Linked DNA regions of Homo sapiens. The protein of the gene in region 1 purifies or fractionates together with the protein of each later gene. This does not show direct contact. Each region holds a gene or a part of one and is shown in the gene's direction. Other genes may lie near its edges.

Region 1 (3,754 bases):
CACAACGGCGAGTTAGAAAAGTACTGAAGGATTTATAGTTAAGGGGCAGGCTTATCAGTGGGATATGTCAAGCACATTAAGTTGTTCCTGAGTTTGCAAATATTTTTCTCTGTGATTGGGCCATTGGCATTTGCTAATTGGTGCCCATCAAAGTTAGGCTTCTACCCACCCACAGGAACTGAGAGATATCTTCTTTGATGATTATATATCAAAGGGATAGATCCCAGGTCCTTGAGGAAGACTTTCCTGAGTTGTAAAACTGTCAAGAAGCTTTTGTTAAAAAGACATCTCAAAGTAGGCAGAGAAAGAACTTATAATTCCAAGTTTTCTAAAACAAATGCTCTAAGAAACAAGAAAACAAGAAGTCAGGGCCTAGAGTCAGTAAGAAGCTGGTCTAAAATTCAGTCATGCTGAGGAGAACGTCAATGCCATCTCAGTCATAAAGTTATGGTAGATGTTGATGTTTAAAAAGCTACACATCAGCAGATCAGTTTTAAACAAATATGAATGTTAGATGTTTACAGCCCTAACTTAGAATCCTCCCCTCCTTGCCCCAACTCCCTCCAGACCACCCAGGGCATCAGGATACCACAAGATGTCAGTGGAGGTGACTAGGTAAGAATTCTATCCATTCAAGAACCCTGGGGGAGAAACCCATGCTGCCCCTGTATTTCCCACTATCCCAGGGAACTCTGCCTGCCCCAGTATCTAGCAACAGATGCTTAAAACTGTACTAGTACCATGTGCTTTCATCAGCTGTGCAAACTTGGGCAACTTATTCAACCACCCTGAGCCTTGGTCTCTTCATTTGTAAATAAGCATAGTAAATACATACCACCACAGCACTGTATCAGAAGTAAATCTGATCTGTGTATAGCACTCAACACAATGCTTGGCATATGGTAATGACTCAAGAAATGATAACTATCAATATTTCAGCCAGTTCTCACCTATGCTATTATTCTCATAGAATAATGAACATACTATGACACCAAATTAATAAAATACACAGAGAGGCAGAAGAAAATAAGTTAAAAGAATTATGGCTTAAATCTTTTGAAATTAAAGCAGAAGAAACTATCAATGAGGCAGTAGCTACATCCAAAGCGCCATGCCCTATCCTCTGCAACTTGATCCAATTTTCTGCCCAACTTTCCAAGTCCTGTTCCCTCAAACTTAAAATATTTTCCCACGCAGATCTCAAATCTTCATGTTATTCAGCCCAACGGTGTAATGCAATTTTTTAAATTATGAGTTTTTGTTGTATTTTCTTTTCCTATTTATCACTTATAGCATTTTACCCCCCCCCCCCCAAAAAAAAACCCATGTGGGAGTTAATTGACTTTTCAGGAATCCCATGCAAAATTCTCCCTCAAAACATTCTCTTTGTTTGTGTCTTGGTAGCAACTCCAGAGTTTTCAGGACTTGGACTCTGCTTTAGACTTGTGCTCAGACTGTCTCCACAAAAGTGGTCCGTTTCCTCATCCAATGAGCTCTGCCTGTTTGTCTGTGTGACACTCCAGTGGAAGGAAGCCAAGAGCCTATAATAGCGATCCTGGGGAAAATTTCAGCAGCTGGGGCCATGTAATTTAAAACCTCTGAAAAGTGTGCTGCGGTCCGTGCACAGCATTAGTATAACGTGAGGGCTGAATGCAGCCCATTCTCTGGAGAACTTCCTCACACACCGCAGCAAAGAGAAGACTGAAAGACAAACCTGGGTGCAGCCAGAGAGGTCCAGATAGATGAGCTTGTGGCATCCATTCCCCAAGTTCAGGTACTGTAAGCCTTTGTCTGTGAACCGTCTGCAATAAGCCAAACTAAGATTCTGTAAGTTGTGGAAGTGCCTGAAAAGACAAAAGAGAGGAAGGAAAGTATTATACTTCCGTTGTTCTCTCAAATCTTTCTTAAGCCACTATGACAAAGAAAACTGTAAATTCAACTCTTCTTCTTGCAGATGTTCAACATTTAACTTTACTGTTAACTCTCTACCTGTTAATTAAAGGAGACTACAGTGTTATATAAGGTAACACACAATACATTTAATACCTTGTAATACATTTCAAGTGAAAGTATTAATAGTTCAATAATATTTGCCTAGATATTTAAGAAAGTTGACTGGGATAAAGCTTTTTTGGTGTGTGTGAGGTGGGGGAGGCAATCATATTGTTTGGAAGTGAAACCAAATTTGCAGAGTGTATTGTTGCTTTTAGGTTTTATCTCTGGAGTACCAAAATAATGTGCAAAATATATAAAAGGACAAATCCTTTGTAAACATTTAAATGGAGACTGTTACAGGAGAGTGAGGATTTGGGACAGAAGGCAAAACTGAATATGACCATGCTCTTAAAATAGATCTGATAAGCAAATGAGTTTAAAAAATAGGTTTAAATATGCATGAGTTTGTGACAGTTTCATTATTATAGTTAAAGAAAGACTAATTGATATGCAGAGTTTAAGCATGGATTAAGAAGACCAGTTTGCAAATAAGCAGGCAACACATGAGAAGAATCAAAAGCAACATCAGAGACTATAAATCTCGCTGGAGTTGAAACAGATTAAATATGGTATTACCACAATGACCAAAATGACAGCTTCCAGAAAAAAGTAGGGTAGTTAGGATGAGCCTGTACTACCATACGAGGGCTCGCAGTTTGAGGACACTCCGTGGACAATTTCCCAAGCCCTCCAAAGCCTGGAACTTTTTTTTGAGACGAAGTTTCGCTCTTGTTGCCCAGCTGGAGTACAATGGTGAGATCTTGGCTCACTGCAACCTCCTCCCCACTCCCCCAACCCCTGGTTCAAGCGATTCTCCTGCCTCAGCCTCCCAAGTGGCTGGGATTACAGGCGCGTGCCAACATGTCCAGCTAATTTTTGTATTTTTAGTAGAGACAGGGTTTCACCATGTTGGCCAGGCTGGCCTCGAACTCCTGACCTCAGGTGATCCACCCGCCTTGGCCTCCCAAAGTGCTCGGAACAGGCATGAGCCACCGTGCCCAGAAAGCCTGGCACTTTTTAAGAGGTCAAGGATTCCCACTACTATCTGCTCTTCTAATGGAATTAGCAATCATGCTCTTAGTTTGTGATATGCAACAGCTTAATAGCAAATTAGAAAGCAAAAAGAATGAAAAGTGAGGAGAAAATGCTTCTCTGCCTCTCAAAATCACACAGGTGAATAAAGTTTACCTCCCATAAATGGGAAATAAGATATACAAGCACTGACCATTAATCAGATTTTGAAAAACACATCTATATGATATAATGATTTGCATGCCATAGCGAATTACTTGATTCAGAACACACATCCCGATCTGGGAAGGGCTGTGTACGTGAGATTCGACAGAGCGAGGGGGAAGGCTTTGGACTCACCAGTGACTAGGTGGGCAGGGCCTGAAGGAGAAAGCAGTGCTAATATCCCAAAGACACGCCCCCTCTCTTGGGGCTGTCGAGTGGACTGAGCTGTGCTAAAGTTTTGGAAATGCGTTATCTTCCTCTCCCTGGGGTACACCCTGTGATTCAACTGAGTACAATTTTCTTGGGGTGGGGAGAGGCACACCAGGGTGTCATTTCTAGCAATCCTTTAGCTTTATAATCTGTAGAAAGGAGTTGTGAGGCAGGCCGCGTGACACAGTGCAAAATACACAAGGTTTTTGAATCCGGCCAAATGAGATGTAAATCCAAGCCCTGACACTTACTGCAACCTCCCTAATCTCTCAGAGATTGTTTTCTCATTTGTTAAGTGGAGATTAAAATATTT
Region 2 (2,571 bases), about 29 Mb from region 1:
GTGCAATGGCGCGATCTCGGCTCACTGCAAGCTCTGCCTTCTAGGTTCATGCCATTCTTCTGCCTCAGCCTCCTGAGTAGCTGGAACTACAGGTGCCCACCACCACAGCCGGCTAATTTTTTGTAATTTTAGTAGAGACGGGGTTTCACCGTGTTAGCCAGGATGGTCTCGATGTCCTGACCTTGTGATCTGCCCACCTCGGCCTCCCAAAGTGCTGGGATTACAGGCGTGAGCCACCGTGCCTGGCCTCGGCCTGGTAACTCTTAAGTTTTGCACCTTGATGGTGACTTTAAGCCTTCAGGCAGAACTCCCAGGTGCTAATCCGTCAGTCCGGCAGCCGAAGCCTGAGCTCACCACCTTCAGACACCACCAGCCTCCTTCAGATGCCCAAGGATGCCTGACAAATGTCATTTTCTACACATCTTATGATGTGAGAAGGATTGAGAAGTACTGACCAGAGACACAGCTACATCCCTCCCTTCCACAAGCTGCAATCAGTGGATAATAAAGAAGAGTTTAATAAGCATATCCTGACCTTCCTAAAGTGTAATGTTGCATAAACATAAAGATTCTGGCTGCCTCTGGTGCTTAGAATCTATGTCGTGTAGGCCGGGCACAATGATTATTATACTCAGTTGTATCCTTGGCTGCCTAAAGTGATGCCAGGCCCTTGGCTCTGTCCAGAGTTCCTCTTGAGGAAAATGACCACGCTCAGCTGCTGCCTTTGTTCTGTTTGGTTTTCAGACGAAAACAGCAACCAGAGTTCCGTGTCTGACGTCTATCAGCTTAAGGTGGACAGCAGCACCAACTCAAGCCCCAGCCCCCAGCAGAGTGAGTCCCTGAGCCCAGCACACACCTCCGACTTCCGCACGGATGACTCCCAGCCCCCAACGCTGGGCCAGGAGATCCTGGAGGGTGAGTCGTGGTTGGCCGAGGATGAGTTTCCTAGAAGGGCCTTGCTTTCTGCTCTTGTTGTGTCTCGTCTTTAGAGTAACAGGCTCGAGAGAGCACCTCAGAGCCAGGCAGCACCAAGCCCTTTCTCGATAGCTTAGGAATGATTATAGTTTCCCCTTTCACAGAGGGAAGGGAGAAAACAAGCATTAGAGTTGCGTGCCAGGCTGTGTGGAAGGAACTTGAGTATTTGACGCCTGCTATAATTCTCTCAAAAATCCTGTGAGGTGGCAGCTATTGTCTTCTTTTACAGATGAGGAAAATGGACATTCAAAGCTTAGAAAGGTTAAATTGGGCTGGGCATGGTGGCTCACACCTGTAATCCCAGCACTTTGGGAGGTCGAGGTGAGCGGGTCACTTGAGGCCAGGAGTTCAAGACCAGCCTGACCAACATGGCAAAACCGTCTCTACTAAAAACATAAAAAATTTAGTTGGGCGTGGTGGCATGTGCCTGTAATCCCAGCTACTCCGGAGGCTGAGGCAGAAGAATCACTTGAACCCAAGAAGCAGAGGTTACAGTGAGCTGAGATCACACCAGTGTATTCTTGCCTGGGCAACAGAGTGAGACTCCATCTCAAAAAAAAAAGACCTGGCGCGGTGGCTCACACCTGTAATCCCAGCACTTTGGGAGGCCGAAGTGGGTGGATCACCTGAGGTCAAGAGTTAGAGACCAGCCTGACCAACATGGTGAAACCCCATCTCTACTAAAAATACAAAAATTAGCCAGGCATGGTGGCGCAAGCCTGTAATCCCAGCTACTCGGGAGGCTGAGGCAGGAGAATCACTTAAACCCAGGAGGCAGAGGTTGCAGTGAGCCAAGATCGCACCAGGGCACTCCAGCCTGGCGACAGAGCTAGACTTCATCTCAAAAAAAAACAGAGAAAGGTTAAATCGCTTGTCTGAGATCACATAGCCAGTCTAGTAACTGTTGGAATGAATGTCACTTTAAGTCCTTCTATTTTCAGCATTTATGCTGTCTGCATTACATGCTAAATTTTTTTCTTTTCTTTTTTTTTTTTTTTTTTTTTTTAAAGAGATAGGGTCTTGCTCTGTTGCCCAGGCTAGAATGCAGTGGCTGAATCCTAGCTCACTGCAGTCTTGAACTCCTGGGGTCAAGTGATCCTCTTGCCTCAGACTCCGTAGTAGTAGGACTGTAAGCCTTTGCCACCATGCCTGGCTTTCTTTTAATTTTCTGTAGAAATGGAGTCTCACTATGTTGCCCAGGCTGGTCTTGAACTCCTGGGCTTCAAGTGATCCTCCCACCTCAGCCTCCAGAGTAGCTGGGATTATAGGTGTGAGCCACCATGCCCGACCCAGGTTTCTTGTTATAATATGGATATATAGATGTGTCTTAGGCCCTTGTTACCTTCTCCTGTGCTGTGACCTGTTAACAGCCAACTACAAAATGGAACTTGTTTCTCCATGGGAAATGCCAATTGTAGTTAATATTTATTGTGTTCTTACTATTTGGCATGTGCTGTTCTTAGCTCCTGTGTTTTATTACTTCATCTCGTCCTCATAGCAACTCTCAGAAAACTGGGAGATTGAGTTAGAGTTGTGATGTTTGGGCTAGAGGATGACAAGATGAGCTGCTTTGTCGGTTCCAGATATCTCCAGCCC

Evidence for each region. Proteins that work in one complex are often made in the same cells at the same time.
Region 2: the proteins of LRRC17 (region 1) and BCL7B purify together in Homo sapiens (affinity purification with mass spectrometry; one large-scale study listed by BioGRID and IntAct). This does not show direct contact.

What each region holds. Positions count from the first base shown.
Region 1 is NC_000007.14:102,911,372-102,915,125, forward strand, and holds the start of LRRC17 (leucine-rich repeat-containing protein 17 isoform 1 precursor), read left to right. Parts: upstream 1-1,628; 5' UTR 1,629-1,714; coding exon of another isoform or gene 1,715-1,844; exon of another isoform or gene 1,845-2,023; intron 2,024-3,754. Other genes in the region: FBXL13 (F-box and leucine-rich repeat protein 13), read right to left, coding at 1,715-1,844. UniProt on the Homo sapiens protein: Involved in bone homeostasis. Acts as a negative regulator of RANKL-induced osteoclast precursor differentiation from bone marrow precursors.
Region 2 is NC_000007.14:73,538,226-73,540,796, reverse strand, and holds part of BCL7B (B-cell CLL/lymphoma 7 protein family member B), read left to right. Parts: intron 1-744; coding exon 745-915; intron 916-2,571. UniProt on the Homo sapiens protein: Positive regulator of apoptosis. Plays a role in the Wnt signaling pathway, negatively regulating the expression of Wnt signaling components CTNNB1 and HMGA1.